Linked DNA regions of Homo sapiens: regions 2, 3 and 4 are each reported to be linked to region 1. The links are microRNA targets in miRTarBase. Many come from high-throughput screens and were not tested one by one. Region 1 holds a microRNA gene; each other region holds the end of a gene's coding sequence.

What was found. Region 1 holds the annotated microRNA hsa-miR-627-3p (UCUUUUCUUUGAGACUCACU, at 4,360-4,379, opposite strand). A microRNA usually pairs through its seed, bases 2 to 8, with sites in the 3' UTR of a target mRNA and lowers its output. Matches are read on the target gene's strand: a 7mer-m8 pairs with bases 2 to 8, a 7mer-A1 pairs with bases 2 to 7 and ends in A, and an 8mer does both.
Region 2: the mRNA of SLC35G1 is a reported target of hsa-miR-627-3p. Seed matches in the 3' UTR shown: 7mer-m8 at 2,666-2,672.
Region 3: miRTarBase lists EXOC8 as a target of hsa-miR-627-3p. Seed matches in the 3' UTR shown: 7mer-A1 at 5,363-5,369.
Region 4: miRTarBase lists HLA-DRB1 as a target of hsa-miR-627-3p. The part of its 3' UTR that is shown has no 7-base or 8-base seed match.

What each region holds. Positions count from the first base shown.
Region 1 is chr15:42,195,234-42,202,359 of GRCh38, forward strand. MIR627 (microRNA 627) reads right to left here and starts at 4,433; the gene lies at 4,337-4,433. VPS39 (VPS39 subunit of HOPS complex) reads right to left here. Exons shown (of 25, transcript NM_015289.5): 2 at 4,663-4,728.
Region 2 is chr10:93,900,209-93,907,334 of GRCh38, forward strand. It overlaps SLC35G1 (solute carrier family 35 member G1), which reads left to right. Exons shown (of 3, transcript NM_001134658.3): 3 at 544-3,616. The coding sequence ends at 1,282. Among named protein-coding and RNA genes, the nearest start is that of SLC35G1, 9.8 kb to the left of the region's middle.
Region 3 is chr1:231,329,480-231,336,605 of GRCh38, forward strand. EXOC8 (exocyst complex component 8) reads right to left here. Exons shown (of 1, transcript NM_175876.5): 1 at 3,274-7,126. The coding sequence ends at 6,089. Among named protein-coding and RNA genes, the nearest start is that of EXOC8, 4.8 kb to the right of the region's middle.
Region 4 is chr6:32,572,750-32,579,875 of GRCh38, forward strand. HLA-DRB1 (major histocompatibility complex, class II, DR beta 1) reads right to left here. Exons shown (of 6, transcript NM_002124.4): 6 at 6,026-6,355. The coding sequence ends at 6,342. It also overlaps the pseudogene RNU1-152P. Among named protein-coding and RNA genes, the nearest start is that of HLA-DRB1, 14 kb to the right of the region's middle.

The DNA of each region.
Region 1 (7,126 bases):
AATTCCAGACCAGCCTGGCCAACATGGTGAAACCCTGTCTCTAAAATAGTACAAAAATTAACTGGGCATGATGGCACGCATCTGTAGTCCCGGAACTTTGGGAGGCTGAGGTGGGCAGATCACTTGAGCCCAGGAATTCAAGTCCAGCCTGGGCAATCTGGCGAAACCCCATCACTACAAAAGATACAAAAATGGCTCAGCCCAAAATCTCCTTAAGCTGATAAGCAACTTCAGCAAAGTCTCAGGATACAAAATCAATGTGCAAAAACCACAAGCATTCTTATACACCAATAACAGACAAACAGAGAGCCAAATCATGAGTGAACTCCCATTCACAATTGCTTCAAAGAGAATAAAATACCTAGGAATCCAACTTACAAGGGATGTGAAGAACCTCTTCAAGGAGAACTACAAACCACTGCTCAACGAAATAAAAGAGGACACAAACAAATGGAAGAACATTCCATGATCATGGATAGGAAGAATCATATTGTGAAAATGGCCATACTGCCCAAGGTAATTTAGAGATTCAATGCCATCCTCATCAAGCTACCAATGACTGTCTTCACAGAATTGGAAAAAACTACTTTAAAGTTCATATGAAACCAAAAAAGAGCCTGCATTGCCAAGTCGATCCTAAGCAAAAAGAACAAAGCTGGAGGCGTCACGCTGCCTGACTTCAAACTATACTACAAGGCTACAGTAACCAAAACAGCATGGTACTGGAACCAAAACAGAGATAGAGACAAATGGAACAGAACAGAGGCCTCAAAAATAATACCACACATCTACAACCATCTGATCTTTGACAAACCTGACAAAAACAAGAAATGGGGAAAGGATTCCCTATTTAATAAATGGTGCTCGGAAAACTGGCTAGGCATATGTAGAAAGCTGAAACTGGATCCCTTCCTTACACCTTATACAAAAATTAATTCAAGATGGATTAAAGACTTAAATGTTAGACCTAAAACCATAAAAACCCTAGAAGAAAACCTAGGCAATACCATTCAGGACACAGGCATGGGCAAGGACTTCATGTCTAAAACACCAAAAGCAATGGCAACAAAAGCCAAAATTGACAAATGGGATCTAATTAAACTAAAGAGCTTCTGCACAGCAAAAGAAACTACCATCAGAGTGAACAGGCAACCTACAGAATGGGAGAACATTTTTGCAATCTACTCATCTGACAAAGGGCTAATATCTAGAATCTACAAAGAAATCAAACTTACAAGAAAAAAACCAACAACCCCATCAAAAAGTAGGCAAAGGATATGAACAGACACTTCTCAAAAGAAGACATTTATGCAGCCAACAGACACATGAAAAAATGCTCATCATCATCATCACTGGCCATCAGAGAAATGCAAATCAAAACCACAATGAGATACCATCTCACACCAGTTAGAATGGCGATCATTAAAAAGTCAGGAAACAACAGGTGCTGGAGAGGATGTAGAGAAACAGGAACGCTTTTACACTGTTGGTGGGACTGTAAACTAGTTCAACCATTGTGGAAGACAGTGTGGCAATTCCTCAAGGATCTAGAACTAGAAATACCAGTTGACCCAGCCATCCCATTACTGAGTATATACCCAAAGGATTATAGATCATGCTAGTATAAAGACACATGCACACGTATGTTTAATGCAGCACTGTTCACAAGAGCAAAGACTTGGAACCAACCCAAATGTCCATCAATGATAGACTGGATTAAGAAAATGTGGCACATATACACCATGGAATACTATGCAGCCATAAAAAAGGATGAGTTCATGTCCTTTGTAGGGACATGGATGAAGCTGGAAACCATCATTCTCAGCAAACTATTGCAAGGACAAAAAAACCAAACACTGCATGTTCTCACTCATAGGTGGGAATTGAACAATGAGAACACTTGGACACAGGAAGGGGAACATCACACACTGGGGGCCTGTCGTGGGGTGGGGGGAGGGGGGAGGGAAAGCATTAGGAGATATACCTAACGTAAATGACGAGTTAATGGGTGCAGCACACCAACATGGCACATGTATACATATGTAACAAACCTGCACGTTGTGCACTTGTACCCTAGAACTTAAAGTATAATTAAAAAGAGTGGAAAAAAAAACCTAAAAAAAAAAAAAGAAAAAATCTAAGTAATGCTAAAAAAAAAAAGATACAAAAATGGGTTGGGCATAGTGGTGTGTGCCTGTGGTCCCATCTACCTGGGAGGCTGAGGTGGGAGGATGGCTTGAACCCAGGAGGTTGAGGCTGCAGTGAGCCAAGATAGCGCCACTACACTCCAGCCTAGGCGACACAGCAAGACCCTGTCTCAAAAAATAAAGGAGCAGAATGAAGCCTAGAGATGTCTATTGAGGAATGTTTATACTCATATTTTAGAATCAACCAGTTAAAAACACATTTATTGAATAATTACTAGGCTAGACATATCAGAGGATAAAAATGTCACTGGCTCAACTGAGCTCCAGGGAAATGACTCAGATCAGATCAGAGCCTACGATCCCTACCCCTAGTCTTTTCTTGACCCTATTATCCCCTCCCTTTCCTCAGAAAGACAGTCTACCCAAAGACCTATTTAGGCTTGAAATATCTCAAATCTGGAAACCAAATTAACCCTAGAACTAATTCACACGGGCCCAGGTCTATTTCTGGCCCACATCAGGCCAGATCTGGGCCAGAACTAAACTGTTCACCAAGAGTATAGGGAAAAATGGCATTTCTTGAAGAAAAGTTTCAAATCAGAATTTGATTTCCTAATTGTCTATATTTAATCTACCTATGGCGAAACCAAGGCCCAGGAACATTAACTAATTTGTCAAAGGTGACATGATAAAATGATCATAGGGCAAGGAATAGTCGCCACCAGGGTTCCAAGCCAGATTAACACTAATATTACCAGTTCAGGTCTATACTGTGTTGAGACTTCATTTATAAAGTCTTGTTTTCAATTTCTGATCACCACTTACATGTGAAAGCAAAGCAGAGAGTCAAAAAACAATTGTTGAATGCTGAATAAGATAAGCATTTTTAGCTTTAAAATTAAAATGTGAGCTTAATTTTAAAATTATAGACCAGGCAAATATCACAGAACGCAAATATTTTGGCTCCGAGAACTAAAAAAAGAAATTTTTTTTTGAGACAAAGTCTGTTGCTGAGGCTGGAGAGCAATGGTGTGATCATAGCTCACTGCAGCCTCAACCTCCTGGGCTCAAGCGATCCTCTCACCTCAGCCTCCAGAGCAGCTGGAATTATAAGCACGTGCCACCACATCCAGCTAATTTTTTGTAGACAGGGTGTTGCCATGTTGCCCAGGCTGGCCTCGAACTCCTGGCCTCAATCATTCCTCCTACTTCAGTCTCCCAAAGTGCTGGGATTATAGGCATGAGCCACTTCACAGGCCATGAGAATTAAAAATTTAAAACATTAAAACAAAGATCAACAATGTACTGCTCCAGGGCCTAACTGAGGCCTTTGCATGTTTTTGTAAATAAAGTTTTATTGGAACATAGCCATACCTATTCATTACATATTGCCTACAGCTGCTTTCATGTTACAAAGGCAGAGTTAAGTAGTAACAACACTGCAAAGCCTAAAATATTTATTCTTTGGACCTTTTCAGAACAAGTTTGCTGACCCTGATTTAGAGGACAGTTGAAAAACTTAGAAATGAAATAAATTATCTATTTTGTTCTCTGGTTTCTTTTCTTACCCTGCTGCAGAAACTGACCAGGATATCTTCTCTTTCCCGAGTGCACTAGTAAGGTGCTTTTTCCCCCAGTGTTACCCTTGCTCCAGGTTCCACAAGAGAGCTCTATTTATCTTAAGCTATCTCTTAAGCTATTTACCAGAGAAATATATATTATATTGAAGGGTATGAAATTAACTGCAGATTTCTGTAGAGTGGCTCCAGGGCATAATACCTAAACACATCTATTCTCCATAAAGAGAGCACAGAAACGAAAACAAGGAAGGGCAGTGAGGTACTTTCTGCCCCAATAAAAAACACTCTTTAACAGAATACATTTCAAATACTTTAGTTATTACTCTACATTACTGACAGTCACATTTGATTAGAACTTTAGTTTTCACAGTTTCTTCGAGCCTATTATTGCATCCACCCCAACAACTTTGTGGGGCAGAGAGTTTATAGAAAACTGATGTTGGAAAGAACTTGCTCACGGTCACGCAGCCAGGGGGAAGTGCACATGAAGGCAAACCCTGGTCCTCTCTTCTTGTTCTACCCCTCATAAGCCAACAAGATATTTTAAATCGATGTTGCCTAATTTTTTTTCCTACCACCACACCATATATACAGGAAGCTTATGCCCATTAGTAGTATTTCTTATTATTGGTAGTGAGTCTCAAAGAAAAGAGGAGGAAAACAACCACCTCCTCTTTTCTTAGAGACTCACTACCAGTAATAAGTAATTCAGTAATAAGTAAACCAGCAATTCATCCTCACCTCCCAAATGCAGGTAGGGCAATACAATTTGGAGGAGAAAAACCCTAGGCATTCTCAAGTCTTCTCCCCATTTTCCCACCGTGCTCCCTCTAACCTTCAATCTCTCTTTTAATGGTCCAGGAATAACTGATTTCACAGTTGTATACTAGCTGACTATTAAAACTTATTTTTTTGCATGAGCAATGTGCACTTACCAACGTCCTTCCGAATCCTATAGAGAAGAAGATGTCCTTGTTTGGTTCCCACAAGAAGCCATTCCTCTGGAAAAACAAAACAAAACAAAAACAAAAACAAAAAAAAACCAGCTTTGAGAAAGGTCAATCAGCTTGAGTATAACCCTATTTTTTTAGCTGGGGCTTGTAATCAGAAATCAATGTGTCAAGAAAATGAGTTGCTTTTGATAGGAGGTGTTTTGCAAAGCTAAGAAATGTTTATACTCATGTTTGAAAATCAACCATTTAAAAACACATTTATTGAATAATTACTAGGCTAGACATATCAGAGGATAAAAATGTCCTGGCTCAATTGTTTTAATGTTAAACTAATAAAAAAGATAGAAGGGCTTTGTATTTTTAAGATTAAATTATTATGATTTTTATTTTTTGTTATATATACTTTTATTAAGATATATATCTTCAGATATATATTTTTAAATTCTGCTAAAAAGAATATGATGAAAGTTTATAAAATCACAAAATGGAAGTACAAATGTGAAACCAGGTATCCAACCTCAGCAATAATAGCTAAGAGGCATCCTTTAAATGCTTTTACTTTCAGGAAAATAAATGACGTAACATAATAAGCTTACAGAATTCATTATCTCAAAAGATAGTCTAGTAGAAAATATTTAATAACAAGTGTTGATGAGAATATAAAGAAATTAGAATCCTCATACACTGCTGGCAGGAATGTAAAATGGGAGAGCCACTTTGGAAAAGTCTAGCAGCTCCTCAAAAGGCTAAACAGAGTTACCCTGGGACCCAGCAATTCCACTCCTGGTTACACACCCAACAGAAATGAAAACATATTCTACACAAAAACTTGTACACAAATGTTCACAGCAGTATTATCTGTAATAGCTAAAAGATGGAAACAAACCAAATGTCCACCAACTGATGAACGGATAAACAAAATGTGGCATGTCTATATAACGGAATATTAGCTAACAATGAAAAGAAAGGAAGTATGGATATATGCTACAACACAGATGAACCTAAAAACATGATGCTAACTGAAGGAAGCCAGACAAAAGGCCACGTGATTCCATTTATATGAAATGTCCAGAGTAGGCAAATCCACAGAGGTAGAAAGATTAGCGGTTGCCCAGGGCTGGTGGGCTTGGGGGAAAATAGAAAGTAAATACTAATGGGTACTGAGTTTCTTCTGAAAGTGATGAATATGTTCTAAAATTTATTGTGCTGATAGTTGCATAACTCTGTGAATGTACTAAAAACCATTTAATTGTACACTTTTTTTTAACTTTTATTTTTTTAAGATAGGGTTCTACTCTGTTGCCCAGGCTAGAGAGCAGTGGTGTGATCATGGCTCATTGCAGCCTCCACCTCCCTAGCTCAAGTGATCCTCCCACCTCAGCCTCCTGAGTGGCGAGAAATACAGGCATGCACCACCACGTTCAGCTATTTTTTAAAAAATGTTTATAGAGATGAGGGCTCACAATATTGCCCAATCTGGTCTCCAACTCTTGACCGCAAGCAATGCCCCTTCAGCTTCCCAAAGTGTTGGGATTACAGGGGTGAGCGACTGTGCCCAGCCAAATTGTACATTTTAAAAGATGGTCTAGGCTAGTGGTTCTTAAACTTTAGTGTATCACAATTATTTGAGAGTTTGTTAAAATACAGAATGCTAGGCTCTACCCCGGAGCATCTGATTTAGTAGGTTTAAAAGTAGGCCCAGGAATTTTCATTTCTAACAACTTCCCAGATGATGCTGATGCTGGTGGTTCAAGGACCACATTTTGGGAGGCACTGGTCTAGGTAAAAAGAGGCTCAGAAAGAGTTTAAATAATTACCCTGACAGACCCATATTACATCATTCAAGGAAGGTAAGCATGTACAGATACTTCCTTAGCTTTTTGATAACATAAAGGTCACTCATTCCTTTCATAAACTCTCTTGATTCTTGACCTCTGTAAAATAAAATCTTGGATAATGGTACAAATAGATAACTTTTATTGAGCATGTATTGTGTTCCAGGAAATGCTAAACGCATCTGTTATTTCACTAATCCTCACAACTATCCCTTGAAGTAAGTCCTTTTTTCAAATCCCCATTTTATAGATGAGGAAGTTGAGGCCTAGGGAATATATAACTTTTCCAGAGTCACACATGTGGCAAGCAGCAGAGTTGGGATCCCAACCCCAATTTGTCTTGATTCCCAACCACATGCTGTGATGTACTTACTAAGGCACCCATGTCAAAAAAAATGGGTGTCAGCCAAAGGTTGTCTGAATGGCAGTAGTTATATTTATAAAAACAGGTCAGCACCTACATTCCTTATCCAAAGGATCAATAGTATTTCTCCAGGATGATGTTCTTAGTCATCCAGAAAAACAGAGTGATTCTATTTTCTTTGATTTGGGGTCTTAAAGGAAAGGCAGGTCACACACAAAAAAAATGTTGAAATCAGAAATAACAGCAG
Region 2 (7,126 bases), not on the chromosome of region 1:
AATAAATTTTAGCAGTTTCAAGTTTTATAGAAAAATTCATGAGATTGAGAATGAGCATTAGCTGGGTCTAAGTTTCCTTACACAGGGCAGCTGAATCTTGACATTGTATTTATCATAAAAGTGATATGTTTATAGAAAATTTGGAGAAAATAAATATAAAGAAAGAAAATTACCTATGAGTTTATCTATTAAGATATAAACATGATTAACATTTAGTTTATTTTCCTTTTTGTCCTTTTTGCAAGCATATATATACATATACGTGGGATAAATATCTATATTAATTGAATTATAATTTTACTATGCATGTAATTCACTTGCACTGGTTTTGCTTTTACTGTGAACACTTTACTGTCATTAACTATACTTAGAAAATACTATTTTTAAAAAGTATATAATATTCATTTGTGGATATTATAATTAATTTACTATTCCCTCATTTTTTGATATTTAGTACTTTTAAAATAATGTTTAATTACAAATTGTAATTTAAAAACAAATATTAATTTCATTTAATATGCATTTCTTCATTTGAATTTACAGAACTGGGTTTATAGGCCCAAAAGGTCAACGAATTTTCCTCATTCTCAGAGGAGTCCTTGGTTCTACCGCCATGATGCTTATATACTATGCTTACCAGACAATGTCCCTCGCTGATGCCACAGTTATCACGTTTAGCAGTCCAGTGTTTACGTCCATATTTGCTTGGATATGTCTCAAGGAAAAATATAGCCCTTGGGATGCTCTTTTCACCGTGTTCACAATCACTGGAGTGATCCTTATCGTGAGACCACCATTTTTGTTTGGTTCCGACACTTCGGGGATGGAAGAAAGCTATTCAGGCCACCTTAAGGGAACATTCGCAGCAATTGGAAGTGCCGTATTTGCTGCATCGACTCTAGTTATCCTAAGAAAAATGGGAAAATCTGTGGACTACTTTCTGAGCATTTGGTATTATGTAGTACTTGGCCTCGTTGAAAGTGTCATCATCCTCTCTGTATTAGGAGAGTGGAGTCTGCCTTACTGTGGGTTGGACAGGCTATTTCTCATATTCATTGGGCTCTTTGGTTTGGGGGGTCAGATATTTATCACAAAAGCACTTCAAATAGAAAAAGCAGGGCCAGTAGCAATAATGAAGACAATGGATGTGGTCTTTGCTTTTATCTTTCAGATTATTTTCTTTAATAATGTGCCAACGTGGTGGACAGTGGGTGGTGCTCTCTGCGTAGTAGCCAGTAATGTTGGAGCGGCCATTCGTAAATGGTACCAAAGTTCCAAATGAAGCATCATTGCTGAAATACATATTTTTTTCAAGTACACCATCACCTAATTCACATACAGCATACGCACACATCTGGAAAATCTGCATTTTCTTCATTGGTTGTATTTAATAAATTGCCTAAAGTACCATTTTTGAATATAGTATGTCTTTAGTTAAGAATAGCTAGTCTGTTTGGTGTAACAATTTTTTGGTAGCTTTGGTTTTGGTTTTGGTTTTTTTTGTTGTTGTTGTTGGGGTCAAGTTGGTGAGAGGAGAGCTCATTGTTTGAAGAAAAACCAAAACATTTTATGGCTAGTAATATTTATGTAATTTTTAAAATGTATTTTTGGTACTGATGGGATATGGGTGGGGAGGCTATTTTAGATATTCTTTTAGCAGTGTAGAGCCTAAGAAACTTGGTTCTACTACCATGATCTTTATAAACTATGCCTTCCAGACAATTGATAATGCTGCTATAATTAGTATTATGTTGATAATTCATTTGCAACCTTATTCTATTTAGGAGGATGAAGTTGAAGCTTAGAATAGGTGCCTGCTTAATGGTGTTAATAATACAAATGAATTGGCCTTATTTTCAAGGATTTTATAAATGATTATCATACTTGTAACTCATATTTGTGCCTTTTCATTTTAATGCTGGAATTTTTATTATGTCACCTCTAAAACACTTAAATTGCCAAATTTGGCTAGTAGTTTTGTTTCAGTGGCATTAGCAACTGCAGCTAGCATACTATAATTTTAATTGTCCTCACTTTTTTTTGAAACTGCACTAAATTTTTCTTAACATTCCAAGATTTCAGATCTCTAAATCACAAAGAGAAATCTTGGCATGACCAGTGTGCACGTTTCCATCCTGAAGTGTTTTCTCTTCACTAGAAATGTGATTTTCTATAAATTCCCCTTGAATTTATAGTGTGATGCCAAATAAAATTTTCTCAGGATCTTATTAGGTTGAACCATATGTAATTGCCAAGATTTTACTATTTTAACTTAGAAAAACCATCGTTTCATATGATTCACCCTAATAGATACCTCCATTATTCTCTAAATGAAATAGAAGACTTTGGAGTATATGTTTTTAAAGTAATTTTTTAAAATATGGTAATGTATTAAACTTATTTTTATAGTTATGAAATTATGTGTAATAATGCTTTATGTTATACATTAAATGTAAAGACTTGTGAATCCATGTTTGATTGACTTTCATAGTTTCCTGCATTGAAATAAAATCACTATGAATTCTAGTTTATCAGCATGATGTTAAATGTCAGTGCCATACCATGATGCAGCACCATGACACTAACGCCATGAATTCAAACAGCACGTTTTACACCTGGAACTTCATCAGACCAATACTTTGCAGTTAGAGAGAATTTAATATCTAGAAAAGCTTGGGAGGTTAGTCAGGACTTAGGGAGTATACATAAATGGTTACTTGTTGTAATGAGCCCTTTATTGGTGAGGTTGCAATAGCTTCCAGCTCTTACTGTGTCAGATGAAGCATCTGTCATTATCTTAAGCCTGCAGAGTTGAAAGGTTATAGGCTCTTTCCTACCCTCTCATCATAATTTTTCCAAAGCAAAGAGGAACTTGGCTTCTGGGGTTCGTGCCTTAGTGAGAAAGAATCTTTTCCAATAGTTCCAATGGGGGAATTTTTGGCTTGCTGATTTTATCAATTGCCTTGACACCTGACAAACCCTAAATGAAGTCTATGTAGGTGAGTCATCTCTGTTCCACCTGATTTACAGTATTGGAATTTAGACTTGCAAAAACATCATTCTGCAAATATCTTAGATAATTACAGAATCAGGAGCATTTGAGAACTCTAGAGGTCTCAGAAATCATCACATAGGGGCCATGCTTCGTAGATAGGGATGATAGAGAGGAGACCTGCCCAAGTTGAATTTCCATGGCCTTCCTCCCTTCCTTAGTTCCATGATAAAGTATGGACAGTAAACCACTACTTGAGCTACCTAAGGTGAATTAACTCTCAGGGAACCCTCTTCCAGTTCTTTACCTTGCACAGTGAAAGAATCAGTGGCACCTAGAAAGTTAAATCCCTTTAGGCCCATACACTAGAGACATGTTTTGTTTGAACAATGTAGTTTAAGTACTTGAATGTCACACTATATAACTGAGGTTAGAGAAAATGTTTCTTCTAGCCCTTACAGGGTGTGATTCTTAAACACAATGTCCAAGGTGTATACAAGGATATGTATTGTAACAACTATGGGTATGTATATTTTGCAGAGCGTAGTTTCTATATCTTGAAAAGGAAAATATTTTCATAAATTGTTTTTATAAGTACTAATAAAATAATATGAAAGAAAGCTATATGTTGGTTGTTATGATTATAGCAAATATATAACTTATTTCCCTTTCAACCCTATGCTTCAAAATATATTTTCTGTAGGAGATTGACCTCTAGCCATTCAGCTGGGATATAATCTCAAAGTTTAAACTGTCTGACCCACTTGTACTATCAAGAGGGTCAGATGAACAGTGTAATCTGTTTATCTCTCCAAAATAAAGGCATTAGTCTTCTGTGTTAGTGAGACCTTCATTCTTCTAGATCCTGAGAACTTAAAGTAGCTTTGAACTCTGTACTTTTTGTTCCTGTAGCTAATCCGTTACTAAATCCTGAAGAGTCTTTCTTCTTATTGTCTTCTTATTGTCTTGTGGATTTATTCTTTCCTCACCATTTCCACTGCCACCATCTTAGCCCAAGACTTAGCACCTTACACCTGAATTACCACAACAGTTTACTGGTTACCTGCTTCAAGACTCTTTCTTCCACTCTGATTCCTGTCTCAGTGCCAGCTTAATGTTCCTAAAGCCCTGTTTTCACTGTTACTCTAGTTCTCATGAAACCACAGTGATGCCTTATTACACACCATATCACATCAAATTTTCATCTGGCCCTACTCCCACTTCTCCGACCTGATTTCTACATCCCAACACAAATGGGATACTCAGATCAGTCTTACCACTAGCTCCCATGTTTGCCAGTAGAGTCCTTCCTCTGCATTTCCCCCCTGTCCTTACCTTCTCTTATTTACCCTCTAAGGCCTGTTAGCCTCCAATGGCTCAGCTTAGGCTTTTGTTTCTTCTGGACTCTAGCTTCTCCTACCCACATAATCCATCTTGGAAGAGTGGGTAAAGCACTGGATTGGGATCTGAAGGTCTAGTGTGGTTTTATCACTTTTCAGCTGGACAAATCACCTAATGCACCTGAGCCTGTTTTCCTCACTTGCCCAGTCCCTCTTGCAAATGAGTGCCATAGAAGGGCTTATAGACTATTAAGAAGGATGAAAACATTAAGTATTGAACTGTGGTTAAGACTGTAGAATTGAGTATTCACTCTCCTCTTCAAAATGAGGCGTATACCAGAGTCCTTACTCCCGAGCAGCCTCACCAGGAACCGTAGGAACATGCCTATCAGAATGCAAACTCCATTCGGCCCCCTCCTGCTAGCACAGAATTGTGCTGTTGGCCAGCTTTCACTTCCTAGCTGATCTTCCCATATAGGGCTGCCAAGGATCACCAGTCCTTTCATGCGCAGGTGTTACCACCTTTCCAGTTCTGGCCCTAGCTCTGATCTTATATGGGTATTATGCTTGGCTCTGACCTGGGGAATGGGCCTGATTTATGTGTGTTTCCCATGCACTGTGTACTCAGCATGGTTCTTTTAGCCTCTTACGTATTGCACTCGGTAAGCATATTTACTCTCTTGAGGGCATTCTAGTGGGAAGAGAGCCAGATGTTCTTGATATCACCCTGGTCTCTGATCTAGGTGTGTATGGATCCATGGTCAATAATGGGCATTAGAATTTGGTTATATGGGTGAAGGTTGGATATATGAATCCTGGACACTACCCTAAGCATGCTGTTTTATGCCCCGTTTGGTGCCTTATATCAGATCTAATACAGCTACCATATTCACCTAGAATTCTGCAAGATAACCTATCAGGGACTCTGATCCACATTGATGGATCCACGGTTTAGCCTCTTTGAACATTAAGTTTGGAGCTGGACCTGGGAAAACAATTCACAGCCCATGAACCTTGGCACTTCTCATCTCCTGGAAATTCAGGGGTGGGCTTTATAGCAAGAGGGTAAGGAGAAGACATACTTGGTATCAAGGGAGGGCAGTAAATGTAGCAGAGATGCCCAGTACACAGGAAAACGTTCCACTGGGCTCAGGAAATGTCATTACTAGAGAAAGAGCCTGGGTCTCTTCCACTAAACTTTCATGATTCTAGAAACCATGTGAGATTAATACCAGTAAGCCTGATGAAGCAAAGGAAGTAACCTAGATTCATGATTAGTTGCCAGGGTGGGGTCAGGAAAGTATAAAACCATAGTTGAGCAGAAGTAGACTTGGGCAGGAGGAAATGTGTTCAGGTGAATGGTGCAGCATGAAAGTACCATGCCAGGGTTGGGAGCTCCATGGTGCAGCAGAAGTACATGGAAAGGCCAGGCCAGAGGAGTGCATTACTAACCAGAAGGCCTGTATCTGAGGTTATAAGAACCTGGCTGTTCTTACCGCTGTTCCAAGTATACTTGACCATGATTTAAGATTAAGCTGTATGTGCCAAGAACATACCAGAAAGAGAGAAACTAATAATACAACTATATTTGATTTTTTCTATGATTATAGTAGGTACTAGCTCAATAATATTAGAATTGAATTCAAAGCAATAGCATAATTCAGAATGGACTAACATTTTCTTTCTTCTGATATTCCCCCTGGGAAATCAGCCACATTGCTGTGAGGAAGCCTGGGCTACATGGAGAAGCCCACATGAAGAGGCCCATGTGGAGAGGAACTGAGGCCCTGACACTTGGCCCCATCTGCACTACCAGCTGATAGCCAGCATGAGCCTGCCAGCCAGGTGAGTGTGCACACTGGGAATGGATCCTCCAACTCTCAGGTGAGCTGCCCCAGCTGATGCTGTGTGGAGCAGAGACAAGCCCTCCTCCTACCTCCTGAGCTCTGCTCAAATTGCAGATTTGTGAGAAAAAGAAACCAGTTATTACTGTTTTAAGCCACTAAAAAAAAAATATAAACGATAAAATTGTCTTGGATATGTATGTACCACATTATACACAATCACAATTACATAAAGCAAAACACCTCAAAAGAACAAAAATCAACAAAAGGTAGGACATTTTCATGGGGTTTTTTTAGCCTGTGACAGATAAAATTCACAAAAATTAGATATATAGGGGATAAGAATAATAAAATATAATAAAGTTGGTCTAAACCAACTGTTTTCAAAGTGTGGTTTGGATACCTCAGAGTCCTCAGGACCCTTTCAAAGTGTTTGCGATGTCAAAACTATTTTAATAATAATACTAAGAATGTTATTAGTCTGTTTCACAATCATTCTTTCATAAGTATACAGTGGAGCTTTCCAGAGGCTATTAGACATGAAATTGCAACAGCTTGAATGCAGAAGCAGATAGGAGAATACAGCTATTATCTATCAAGCCAGGTTTGCAAAAATAAAAAGCAATGCCACTCTTCTCACTAATTTTTTTGGAAAATAGTTATTTTTTATTAAAGTGTTATTTATATTAACATATAATTACATTATCTTTCAAGGCCAGCACAGTGGCTCACACCTGTAATCCCAGCATTTCGGGAGGCCAAGGTGGCCAGATCACTTGAGTCCAGGAGTTTAAGGCTGCAATGAGCTACGATCGCGCCACTGCACTCCAGCCTGGGTGACAGTACGAGATACAACAGATGAACACACTTCCTGTTTATGTGCTTTAGTTCCTTTGTATGTGCATTTTAGAAAAGTCAGAAGTCTTTGGTACTTTGCAGCATGTGTGCAT
Region 3 (7,126 bases), not on the chromosome of region 1:
ATTTTATACCAGGGACTTGAGCGTCTGTGGATTTTGGTATATGAGAGAGGTCCTAGGACCGGTTCCCCACAGACCAAGGGATGAGAGTACTTTGGAAAAACCTGAGACAGAAGAATGAGACCAGCCCTACCAGTTATTAAATTTCGAAACTACAGTTAACCAAAATAGCTTGGTACTGAACAGAAATAGAAATATCAGTGGCATTTCAAATCAGTGGGGGAAAAGGATGATTCAAAATTGTTGTGAAAATTTGCTAATTATTTGTGGGGAAATTGCATTCTGACATCATCACTTACATTTTTTTTTTGAGATGGAGTCTCACTGTCTCGCCCAGGCTGGAGTGCAATGGCACGATCTCGGCTTGCTGCAGCCTCCGCCTCAGCCTCCCAAGTAGCTGGGATTACAGGCACCCGCCATCATGCCCAGCTAATTTTTGTACTTTTGTAGAGATGGGGTTTCACCATGTTGGCCAGCCTGGCCTCAGGTGATCCGCCCGCCTCCGCCTCCCAAAGTGCTGGGATTACTGGCGTGACCCACTGTGCCCGGCCATCACCACTTACTTTAAAATGAATAATAGATGAAGCAAATTTCAAATATTAAAATATAATAAATTACTAGAAGAAAAACATATTTTTAGAATCTGAGAGTGGGTAAGGCCTTCTTAAGCCTAACCGAAAACAGAAGTCATAAAGAAAAAAACCCAAATAAATCTGGCTTCATAACGGGTTAAAATTTACCATACTATGAAAATAAATAAACGGCTATACAAACAAATGACAAACTGAGAAAAACTACAGCAGTACACATGAAGGGTTAATTTCCTAAATATACAATAAACTCCCACAAAATCACAATACAAATATAATCTAAGAGAAAAGTGGCAAAAGATATAAACAGGAAGCTTAATAGAAAAAGAAAGTTGTTCAACCTCACTCATAATTACATACAAAACTAGAAGCTGGGCATGGTGGCTCATGCCTATAATGGAAGCACTTTGGGAGGCCGAGGTGGGAAGATTGCTTGAGCCCAGGAGTTCAAGATCAACCTGGGCAACAAAGTGAACACCACCCCCCACAACCTCTGCCCTGTATGTATAGAAAAATTTAAAAATTAGCCAGGCAGGAGGATCCCTTGGGCCAGGCCAGGGAGGTTGAGGCTACAATGAGGCATGATAGCACCATCGCACTCCAGCCTGGGCGATACAGTGAGATCCTGGCTCAAAAAACAAACCAACCAACAAACAAAAATGAGAACAACCTAGAAGCTATTTTTTCACAGAGAAGATTAGTAACAATGAATATTATTACTAATAAGATGACTTTTTTTTGAGACAGGGTCTCGCTCTGTCCCCCAGGCTAGAGTGCAGTGGTGCTGTCATGGCTCACTACAGCCTCAACCTCCTGGGCTCAAGCAATCCTCCTGCCTCAGCCTCCCGAGTAGCTGGGACTTACAGGTGTGCGCCACCACGCCCGGCTAATTTTTCTATTTTTTGTAAAGACGGGGGTCTACCTATGCTATTCAGGCTGGTCTCGAACTCCTGGGCTTAAGCAATCCACTCTCCTTAGCCTGCCAAAGTGTTGGGATTACAGACTTGAGCCACTGTGCTTGGCAAGGCTACTCTTAATTAAACAGTGAATGAATACAGGTTTATAAGCATTCATGTAAACAGGTATTTTCCTATACTGTTGGAGAGAACTTAAAAATGATATAACCCTCCTGATGAGCAACTGGTAATGCTTAAATTTAAAATGTAATTTGGCAGAGCAATTTCTAAAAATACATCCCATAGATATATTCGCATAAGCGAATAGGAGGATGTGCATAGGTTTTCAGAATTTTTTTTTTGTAATCAACAAAACTTGAAGCCAACCAAGTAATTGGAAAATGCAAAATTATGATATATTCATTCACTGTGATTGACAACTACCCAATCACAGAAGAAAAACCCAGTGGGGTACAGCAAGAGGTACTGATACGAGATGTCTTAAAACACTGAACTGCTAAGTGACTAAAATCAAGATGCAGAACTGTATGCAGAGTATGATACAATTTCTGGAAAAATATGTACATGAAATTCTTACTAGTAGTTACCTCTAGTGAATGGGATTGTTGGGGGGATGAGGACTTTTATTTTTTACTTTAACTCTTCTGCACATTGCATATGGATTGAAGCTTGCTTTGTAGGCAAATGTGGCTTATTTACGCTTTTCCAAACTCTGCAATTCATCCAGGAAGGTCTCTTCATATGACACCCACATTCCCACTTCTGTGCCTTGGGCTCAGGTCCTACTCTTCCATTTTCTTTGCACATTTAAGTCTTGTCCATTCTTCAAGGACCCGCTCAAATGCCAACAATTCCATGAGAACTTTCTAAACTCCTTAAAAGTACACTGCTCTCTTCCTTCTTGGTATTTCCACTGTACACAGCTGTGCATTTGATTATTCTCTCACTTATATTTGTTGACTTTTTCCAATTTCTAAGCATCTTAAGAGGACGAAGTATGTTTAAAATTATTAAAATTCTTCTGCACTCCCACATTACAGTCAATATGAAGCATAGCATTCAATACTTTTAAATATGTGATAGTTTCCTCAGGATATACATATTACTTTCAAAAGGGCAAGCCTGGCCGGGCATGGTGGCTCACGCCTGTAATCTCAGCACTTTGGGAGGCCGAGGCGGGTGGATCACCTGAGATCAGGAGTTCGAGACCAGCCTGGCCAACATGTTGAAACCCCATCTCTACTAAAAATAAAAAAATTAGCCGGGCATGGTGGCGGGCCCCTGTAATCCCAGCTACTCAGGAGGCTGAGACAGGAGAATGGCTTGAACCCAGGAGGCAGAGATTGTAGCGAGCAGAGATCACGCCACTGCACTCCAGCTTGGGCGATATGGGAAGACTCTGTCTCAAAAAAAAAAAAAAAGGCCAAGCCTTGTCATTTAGTTCCTAGGTCTTGTGGCCTACATTTTATTTTCTTTATTTAGAGATGTGCAGATGGTATAAAATCTACTTTTTTATAATAAATTCACATTTTGTACCTCTGAAATTTTCCATTCGAGGGAATTTTAAAAAATTGAGATCTGATTTATTCACAATTCTGACGGTAAGCAGAACACTTACTTAATTTAGCAAACAGCTTCCTAAGTATCCTCCCCACATAAATAAAACAAAAAACTAGGGTCTTCAAAGAATATTTCAGTAACAAGAATATAAAAATATTGAATACCAACTAAAGAAGAGCAATAGATATAATATCTTAATATCACTTTTATCCAGTGTAAGACAATTTTTAAGCTTTATTTTTATGAAACATTTCAGATTCCCTCATATCACAGCACATCAATAAGCAGTATGTACATAGACTGACTTTTATAGTACATGTCATGTCCCAAATTCCCAATCCTAGGTAAGATATCAAGTTACAAAATACAAGTGCCGATAATTAAACTATAGGTAGTATATTAAACAAAAATGAGTTTTTAGCAATTATGTGAAATAAGGCTTTAACCAAAGCAAGACTTAATGCCACAAGGTGTCTTTTTTCCCCAAGAGTAATTAATTCAATCAAGCCCATGATTCCAAGCTCAAGTAACAAGTTTTATATTCTTGAAGCAAACAAGAAAAGGCAATCAATGCTTAAGTGGTATATTTTAGTATATATTACATTTCTGGACAATCTCTCATTGCATTCAATTTTTAGAACTTGTCTTGGGTCTAATAAAACAGAAGAATTAGAGAAGAAAGCCCATGCCACTTTGAGGAATGTAACATAATTGTTTTGTCTGGGTACAAAGGTACGTTACAACACTGGGGGTCTTTAGTCAAGTTCCCATACTAATTGACTCACCAAAGCATACTTCCTTCAGCTACAACTGTAATTGGAACACACAGATTTTACCTGAAGAAAATCCTGTACTTCCAGTTTTAAAAAGCAGACAATTCTATGAAGAAGCAACCATTTAAATATCTAACTATACACATTCAAGTTTTTACAACTTCATGCCTTATGAGGAATTTTGATTTCAGAAGTATCATTCCACAGACTCAGCATCATATATTTATACATATTTCATACAGTATAGTATTAGAAACTGTAAATGGCACAGAATAATCATAATTATCACAAAATTTTATCAATTTCCAGTGATCTTAAAAAGACAAATTATAACCGCCTTTGCTCAGCTAAGATATCCAGTTATGGTTACAACTTTCGAAAATCCTAAAGTTATGTGAAAAAAATTAGTCAAAGAAAATCTGTAAATCTGATACTTTCCAATATTTTAAATATGCACAGCTAAAGAGAAAATAAAGGGGTTGATCTGGCACATGAATAATTAAGTCAATGAATTTTACAACCCTGAGCCACTTTGGCAACTACTTTAGGTTTCACATAATTTTCACAGTCTTAGTACCACCATTTTCATTCAGATAAAAGAAATGACCTTTTGAAATCATGGGCATCAAATTTGGTGCTTATGGACAAGAATCACAACTAGAAGCTAGAGACAAAATGGATCACAGCAAGCACAGTTTCCCTCAAAGAATAAGGAACGCTATAGAATATACAACAGCGATAGTTTAGAAACCTTGGGAAGCTCACATTTCTTTAGTTATTTTGTTTTACTAAACAATTTGAAGTAAGCATTATATTCATGTTTAAAAACAAAGCAAGGAAAAATAAAAAATGAAACAAAAATGCAGCATGGAACATTTTAGGAGTCACAGAAGGTTCTCTTCTTCCCTTTGTTTTGGGCACATTGTCTCACCTGTTTTCACTTTGTTACAAAAGGAAACAAAACCAAATCTCTGCTCAGAGTGGTCATAGTGAGAACACTGAGATTTGCATATGTTTTTCTACTTTCCCATCCATCTAGACCCTGAAATCTAAATAAATATTTCAGTTAAAACTTTTTTTCCATTTGCATGAAGTCTGGGTCACTATATCTCCTACCCTGAATGGGGGAAGATGGGACAGCTATATCTCATACTGAAGCGGTGGCAGCTAAAACCTGGCAACTGCTGCCAGTGTCCCCAATGTGTCTTGCTTATTATTTTTTAAAATGTGACAAAGACAAAAGCTACAGCTGGAAACTCACACAATTTAGAAATATGTTGAAAACTTTTATTATAGTCCTTAGGATTTCCAAGTAAATGCTCCCAAATCAAGTATTACAAAGCTGCTAATTAATTAGCAACTGAAAATTAGCCATTCAAATTATATTGGAAATATTTGCTGAATTGTTTTTATGAAAGCTTCCTCTTGGATTCTGTAAGGATCAGAGTATCTGAATCCACAAACCAGCTAGTTTCAAGAAAGAATTCTTTTGACTAAAACTTACCTTAAAACCAATTTTCCCAACTCTTTTCCTTTTCCCAAATAGTCCAACGTTTTGAGGAGAAATATATGAGGCAGGTTGTTTTATACGGCACTGTACCCTTTAGGAAACCTAACATTTCAGTGAACTGGGAAACTTCACAACATAAACTCTATGTATTTATAGATATTATGACTGCTGTATAATATATACTGTGGGGAAAAAAAAAAAGAAGAAAGAAAAGACTAGCCTGGGCAACATGGCGAAACCCCATCTCTACAAAAAATACAAAAATTAGCTGGGTATGGTGGTGCCTGCCTGTGGTTCCTGCTACATGGGAGGCTGAGGTGGGAGGACTACCTGGGCCCGGGAGGTCAAGGCTGCAGTGAGTCGAGACTTTGCCACTGCACTCCAGCCTGTGCGACGGGGTGAGACCCTGTCTCAAAAAAAAAAAAGAAAAAAGAAAAGTTTTATCAAAGGATAAAACCGAAATGCTATAGTATATAGTGTGACCATAATTTCAGAAGAAGAGAATTAGCATAATTTAAAAGGATAGCTAGCATACTATACGTTTTAATAATTCCAGTATTTTTGTTACTTGGGCTTAATTTAACTTATTTTCCTCTTTTTGATTTTTGTATTTTTAAGAGGGCACTTTTAATTTTCAAGTTGTGTTTGAAACTATAGAGTATGCTAATACAACTTAATATAAATATAAATAATATATAAGCTCTCTCTCTGCATATATACACATATAAACAGACCCAAGCATTAGACCACTGATGTTGTACTTTCAGGATTCACACGAATAAGTCTAGATGCATTCCTCAGATCTTGGAGTTGCTTGGCAGGTTTCCCCACACCTTCTTCAAACCTTTTCTCCACCACAGGGAGGACTGTTTCATATAAAAAGGATGCATTCTGTCTGATAAAAGCTTTCTTCTCTGGATCCTGCTCACATCGAAGACTATAATCCACATGCTGAACAGCAACCAAAATGATTTCCACCAGGCTCTCCAAAAGTACCATGTGCAGCTCTGGGAAATACAGCTTCAGGGCCTCTTCCAAGAAGCCCATGGTCTGTTTGGTGAAAGCAACCACTGTGTAACTTAGGTTCACCCAGCAGTCATCCCCTGTGTACTGCTCAAAGTTACTTACCCCACAACTTTTCATCTCTTCTTTGAGCTTACCCAGGGCTTCTGGCGTCATCAAGTTCATCCTCCTCCACATCTCTTCAGAGTTGCGATGTTTAGTGGCTTCAATGATGATTTCTTTGTAACTGTGCAAGGCCCCTTGGATGTCTTTCACCAGAAGGGCATGGATGATGAAGGTGAGATCCAGTCCGATATCACCCAGTTGCTGGCAATGCTCCTTAGCCACTTTTACACACTCAGCTGCTGTAGAGAGGCTCTCCTTACTATCAAACACCTGCTTGCTAAAAGCATCCACGAACATGCCCATGGCTGATCTTGCCCAGACCACAAAGGCAGAGTAGCAGCCGCTGTCAGTGCCTGCAAAATCGATCTCAAATTCTCTTGCAGTCTCGAGAAGGCTGGTAAAGAAGACATGGCACAGCTTATGAATATAGAGTAAAGTGGCACCTTCGATGCGAAGCTGACGAATTGCAGTATGAACAGCGGCTGCCCTGTTTCTCAAAAATAGCTCACAGGCCTTCGTGCACTGGCCCAGCCGGATCAGTTGCGAAACTGCTCTGCGAGTAGCCTTCGGACCACCTCTCAGGGAACGATCTGGGGAGAGTTCGAAAACTAGCACCTCAGTGAGCTGTCGAACTCGCTCCTCCACTTTGGC
Region 4 (7,126 bases), not on the chromosome of region 1:
TAAGAGACCAATAACTCTTATAAGGTAAGTTCTTAAGAAAACATTAGCCAAGTGAATTCAGTGATATAAAAGATGGCTACTACATCATGACCAAGTGGAGGTTATTCCAGAAATGCAAGGTTGTTTGAGCATTTGAGAATCCATTAGTGTGATTCACGACATTAACTGAAGGAAGGAGAATACACATGCAACCACCTGGATAGAGTCGTGAAATACGATTTGACAGAATTGAGCACTTGGCCTTAATTTTGAAAAAACCTGTTTTCAAACTTGTATTAAAAAGATATTTCTCCAATCTGAGAAATGATAGCTACCCAATTGCACACATTAGTCTCAGCAGTGAAATATTGAAAACTATCTCCTTCATATCAGGAGTACTAGAGGAGTTAGGCAATAATAATGGCAAGAAAAATATATCAAAGAGATAATAATTGCATCCAGGTAAAATGGTCATTATTTACTCTTGACATAATCAGGTACTTAGAAAATAAAAACAATAGACAAGCTCACAGATTTAATAAGTGAATTTAAATAATGTTGCTGATTACAAAGTCAGTATACATTAAACCAATTATGTTACTGATATAGTTTGGATGCTTGTGCCCTCCAGATCTCATGTTAAAATGTAACCTCCATTGTTGGAGGTGAGGCCTGGTGAGAGGTATTTTGGTCGGGGGGCAGATCCTTCATCAATGGCTTGGTGCCATCCTAGCTGTAATGAGTGAGTTCTCACTCAGTTCACATGAGACCTGGTTTTTTAAAGGACTGCAACTGTTCCCCAACTTTCTCTGTGCTCCTGCTCTCACCATGTGATATGCAGGACCCCCTTTCCTTCCCCCATGATTGTTATTTTCCTGAGGCCCTCACCAGAAGCAATTGCCAGCACCACACCTCCTGTAGAGCCTGCAGAACCCTGAGCCAGTGAAACCTCCTTTCTTTATGAATTACCCAGCCTCAGGTATTTCTTTCTGGAAATGTAGGAATGGACTAACATAATTATGCTCTATCATAAACAAATAGAAAACAAAACCAAGAAAATAATTTTATCAATTTCTTCACCTCTTTGCTTTTTCTTCTACTTTTTTCAACTTAAATTTGCTTCTTTTTATTATTAAGTTAAAATTTTACCCCTTTGATTTTTACATATTTATCCTTTTATAATACAGGCATTTAAAACTAAATATTTTTCTCTAAGGACTGCCTTGGTTGCATCTCGAAAATTTTTAAAATTCATTTTAGTATTATTTTATTTAAAATTATTTTCTAATTTCCTTCTGATTTCCTCTTTGACAAGCCATAGATTATTTAGAAATGTATTATTTTACTTCCAAAAATTTAGGCCGTTTTCTCAATCCTACTAATTTGTAATTTCATAAGATTGTGTTCAGAGAATATACTCTGTATGATTTTATTCTTGTGAAAGTAATTGAGACTAGTTTTATAGTCACAGTATTTGTTCTATTTCATGGATTATCTTTGTGCAACGTAAATAAGTAAATATTCTGTAGTTATCAGATGTTGTCAATTTATGTTAATTATAAATGCCAACTAAGTCAAGAAGGTGGAAAGTATTGTTCCTATCTTGATTTCCTTCCTGATCTTTGCACGAAGCTACAGAGATATTTGTTGTCTTCCATCTACCTCCCTAGTTCCCACAGCACCAGCATGAAGTCAGAAAAAGTTCTGGAAGGAGAATCAGCTGACAGGGCAAAGTAGATATATATTATTCAGGGGGCCTCTATAGATTGTAATGCATCACACAAACCCACAGGGCTATTGACAACTCAGCTGGTTTATCCTTACTCCCTCACAATCTCCCTTTCTCAGCCAGGCTCAATCTTCTTCCCATGTTAAGATTCAGTAGATGACCAAAGAATAAGAGTGGACACTTGACCCTGCTCGCCTATGTGGAATTTGTTCATCTCTGGAATTTGGAATTTTTATACTTTTTGATCCACAGCTGGTTAAAATTTTTAAAATAAGATTATTTTCCAGTTTATCCATTTAGTTTAGTCTATATATCTGTTTGCTCTTATAGTAATAGTGACAATTCTCGTAATTTTCCACCTCCTAACTGGCATTATGGTTTATGATTTTTTTCCAATCCATGTTGATAGTCCTACATAATTTACTTAAAGCCCTGAATATTATTCCTTTCTGTGGTTATACCACAGTTTACCTTTTCTCTATCTAAATGTAGATAGTGTTTCTTTTCTCCCCTGTTACATTTTTTATATGTCATCATGGACATATGAGGAAAAATTCACCGAGACTGTAACAACCTAGAGTGGAAATACTGTATTATTCAAACTACTCAAAGGGTTACACCAATATATGCTCACAGTGCCCCACACAGCACCAAATGTCATCCTGCAGTGTGCTGTCACTTCACATGCTCCATAGTTTTTAGGATGTACAAAATTTTTATAATCAAGACAAATTAATCAGTTTTTCTTTTTGAATTTGGAAATGTTTTTGTTATTCCAAACCGTGGCTCAACAAACGACCAATTTTATGTCTCGTTGGGCTCATGTAGGATTGTTCTTTAAGACGGATGTTTACAACGGGATTTTTGTTGTTTTCATCAAGCGCGTAACAATTGTATTTTGAGTTTTAATAGATACTACTACACTGTTATAACTTAAAATCCTAATAATATGGGAGAGTCTATTCCCTTAGAATCTTCTAAATCCTTGAGGTTAAAACAAACTATTGTACTTGCCAATTTTGGAGTAGGAGAAATAGTTTATTACATTGCTGTTCGAATTTGGCTTTTTCTCTTCATTGGTGAGTTTGAGCAAATATATATATATTTATCGACTATTAGGATATTCTCTTCTATAGTGAGTCTATATCCTTTGCCCAATTGTCTATGGCATTTCCATGAATTTATTGATTGATTAGTTAACAATTTTTCATAAGAAAGCCCATTGTCTGCCTTATGTGATCAAAATTTTTCCTGAGCATCATATACTTCTTTTAATTTTGTTATTTTCTTCATGCAAAGAAATCAGTAATTTTCTTCAAATATTTTTTCATTTGTGTCTTCTGGATTTTGTCTTGCTTATGAAGTCTTATTTTTTTAAAAAGGATTATTTTAACAGATTTACTAAAGCATAACTTTCATACTACAAAATTCACTCATTGTACATGTAAAATTGAATAATTTGAGTAAATTAATAGATTTGTGCAATTATCACAACAATTTAGTTTTAGAACATTTCTGTCATGTCCCAAATTTCTCTATTTATAGTTAAGTCCCACTGAGACCCCAAACCCTAGGCACCCAATGATCTGCTTTTTGTGTCTATAAATTTACCTTTTCTAGATATTTCAAGTAAATGAAATCATACAACATGTAATCTTTTGTATCCAATTTCCTTCACTTAGTTAACACTATTGAAGTTCACTAGTTTTGTAGTATGTATCATCATTTTGTTTTCTTTTCATTTCTTTTTGTCTTTTTTCATTTGTGCAAATGCAAAAGGTACAAGTGTAGTTTTGGTACATGCATAGATTGCATAGTGGTGACGTTAGTGTTTCTACAGTATCCATTACCCAAATCACATGCATTGTACCCATTAAGTAATCTCATCATCTAGGGTGCAAGGGTTGAAATTTGCCTTGGGAAAACTACCCTCATGTTTATGGTATCTCCCCTGCCAGATAAGTCTATTTTTGTCCCCTTTTATTGTTGAATGATATTGCCTTGCCTGGATGTAGTTGAATTTTGTTTATCTATTTACTAGTTGAAGGATATCTGGATTGTTTTCAGTTTTGGCCTGCTATGGCTAAGGCTGTTCTGAACCCTTGAACACATATCTATGTGAGGACATATGTTTTTATGTCTCTTAGGTAGATTCCAAGGAGTGAAATTGCTAGGTCATAGGGCAAACATATGTTAAACTTTTTAAGAAATTGCCAAATTACCAGGTATTTGTAGACTCATACACTCCCACCAGCAACACATAAGGAATTAGAAAGTCTATTTGTCTTCAAACATAATTATAATGATGATGATAGTATTAGAAATAGCATCTGTCTTATGAACTTTATATTTTCTCTTTATGTTTCAAGTTTTATTTATCCAGGATCTATTTAGTGAAAGAAATGAATTTGGAATTCAACTTACCAAAAACTGAAACTAAATCTCAGCTCTTTCTGTTTCTATTTCTAGACTCTGTTTTGCTAGCATATATAATTTTAAAAAATCAGTAACAAATGCATTTTTAAAAGTAAATGTATGGTATGTTTTAGCACCTTATAGAGCTAATCATTCCTTATTCTACTTTTTTTCAATATTTTCCCTGGAAAATATATTTACCTCATAAAATAACATGTCAGCATACTTAACTGAGTTGTACAAACAATCAATCCTGTTTGCTTGCTTTTTTTTATTGTAATTGAGTTAATGGCTGACATTTAATAACTCTATGTGTGTGTATGTATACACACCTATATATACATATATGTATATATGTACATATATACGTGTGTGTGTGTGTATATATATATATGTATACATATAAAGACCCAAAACCCTGAATTGAGGGTGCCTATCAGGAATCTATAGGCTTTCATGTGGAAGTTAACTCAAATACTTACAACCTGATAGTACCACAATCTATCATTTCCCTACCCGGAAATCAATCTCTGCTACTCCATCCACCATTTCTTTATTTTTTAAAATACATGATTTTGCTCCTTTTCTTCCCATGTGCCTCAGGCCCACTCTGCAAAGGTTGAATCCTGGCTTGTCTGAGCCCATGTGATCCCACGGTCATTCCAATGTGTGAGAAAGTGGGTACTGGGAACACTCTGGAAACAGTTTAGTTGCTCCTTATAAAGGCACACAGGAGAAAGGAGTATCCTTTTCCTGCCTTTGGGAGTTGTTGTGAAAGAATAACAAACCTAAAGCTGCTGCAGGGGTCACCCTACCATCTCAGGAAAGCTGACATACTGTGTGTGATAGAGAGATGAGCTATGAAGTTCCAGGGTCGCTGGTGATGCCACTGGCCTGCTGAGTTGAGCAACTCTGGAGATGCCCAGCCTTGGATCTATCGGCTATGTGAGATAACGGGTTAAAGAAAAATAAAGCCACTAGATGGGATTTCCTGCTATTAGCAGCAGAACGCATCTTCATTGAAATATTCATTCCACACATTTTGGTTCTACCTTGAAATTCCACACCACAAGTCTCATATAAAATGAGAAAATCATTTCCTCAACTTAGGAAATGAGGCCTATTTGTTGCAACTCTGTGATCAAACAGAACAGACATAATTATCAGCTTAATATATTTCTATAGGATTTATACTCTTACAGGATTTATATGCACTTGTACTGCTACGTATGTACAAGTAACATATAACTAAAAATAAGATATGCATAAAAACAACTTTTAATTTGATTGAAAATAAAATAACAGTCGTCTCTGACAGTGGAGAAATTATGCTCAAATGATTATTAATTTGAAATAGACCTCTGAATTATGTACTTTTAGATTTGACATTTCATACTGACTCTCAGATAGAACATAACGGAGAACTCTCCATCTTCTAAATGTGTCTTTCTCTGAAATCTGTACAAGTCCTTTGATAACACTGTATTATTGAAGTCTCTGGAGTGAAACACTATACACTAATTTACAGTTATAAATACAAAATATTGTAGACGAGATGAAGAAAGAGTTCTGATTGACTTGCTGGCTGGTTTCTCATCTCATGTTTGCCCAGTTTGTTTCAGTTGTTATAGTCTGTTCTCAGTTTTTATGCATTGCCTTTTTAAATGTTAGGATTACTTTTTTAATTGACAAGTAAAAATTGTATAGTATATTTATGTTGTACAGCATGAAGTTTTGATATATGGCTATAGTGTGGAATGTCTAAATCCAGCTATTTAACATACGCATTACCTCACACACTCATGACATATACATGAAAATCATTATTCTATTGGAAAATAATCTTCCCTTTTTCTTTTCATTTTCTGTCTTTGGAGCCAAATGGACCAGATGATATTTAACTCCATCTTTGAGAAACATTTAATAATGTAATGTGTTTGTCATACAGGGTGAATACAGATGCACGGGAGGCCATACGGTTTAGGCAAAGGGGAGCACAAAAGTTGAAGATGAGGCGCTGCCATCAATGCTGGGACTTCAGGCCAAGGGCAGGAGCTGAGGAAGCCACAAGGGAGGACATTTTCTGCAGTTGCCGAACCAGTAGCAACCAGGTCCTGAGAAAGCCCTCTCTTGTGGAAGAATAACTGCCAAGCAGGAAAGCTTTTCATCCTGCAAAGCCGGGGCAGAAAGTTCTTCCTTGAATGTGGTCATCTGCATTTCAGCTCAGGAATCCTGCAAAAGACAGAGGAGAGTGTTGTTTTCAACCTGGCTCTACTAACAGTTTCTTTTCCCCTCTTTCAAGGGCTCAGATGAGAGCACTGCAGGAAGAAGAAAAAGAAGTTCCTGAGTCTCCCCTGAGCCAATAGTCCCGCAGAGCACACCTTTTCTAAGTGGAGAGGAGGAATTTTGGTGTAAATTGCCTGATCAGAAATTTGGATCCAAAGTCTTTCCTATTATTTCTGTCTCATGCCTTATCACCTCTACCATCATTCTGGTGTGTCCTGAGTTTGTTCCTTCCGGTGGGTTTGTGGTCTCGCTGACTTCCTGCAGACCTTCACAGTGAGTGTTACAGCTCTTAAAGGCGGCAGGGATCCAAAGAGTGGGCAGCAGCAAGATTTATTGTGAAGATCAAAAGAACAAAACTTCCACAGCAGGGAAGAGGACCTGAGTGGGTTGCCACTGCTGGTTGGGGTGGCCAGCTTTTATTCCTGTATTTGTCCCTGCCCATGTCCTGCAGATTGGTCCATTTTAAAGAGTGCTGATTGGTCCATTTTAAAGAGTGGTGATTGGCCCATTTTAAAAGTGCTGATTGGTCCATTTTAAAGAGTGCTGATTGGTCTATTTTACAGAGTGCGAATTGGTCCATTTTACAAACATCCAGCTAGCCACAGAGAACCTATTGGTGTGTTTTTACAAAGCACTGATTGGTGCATTTAGAAACCTCTTGTAGGCCGGGCGCGGTGGCTCACGCCTGTAATCCCAGCACTTTGGGAGGCCGAGGCG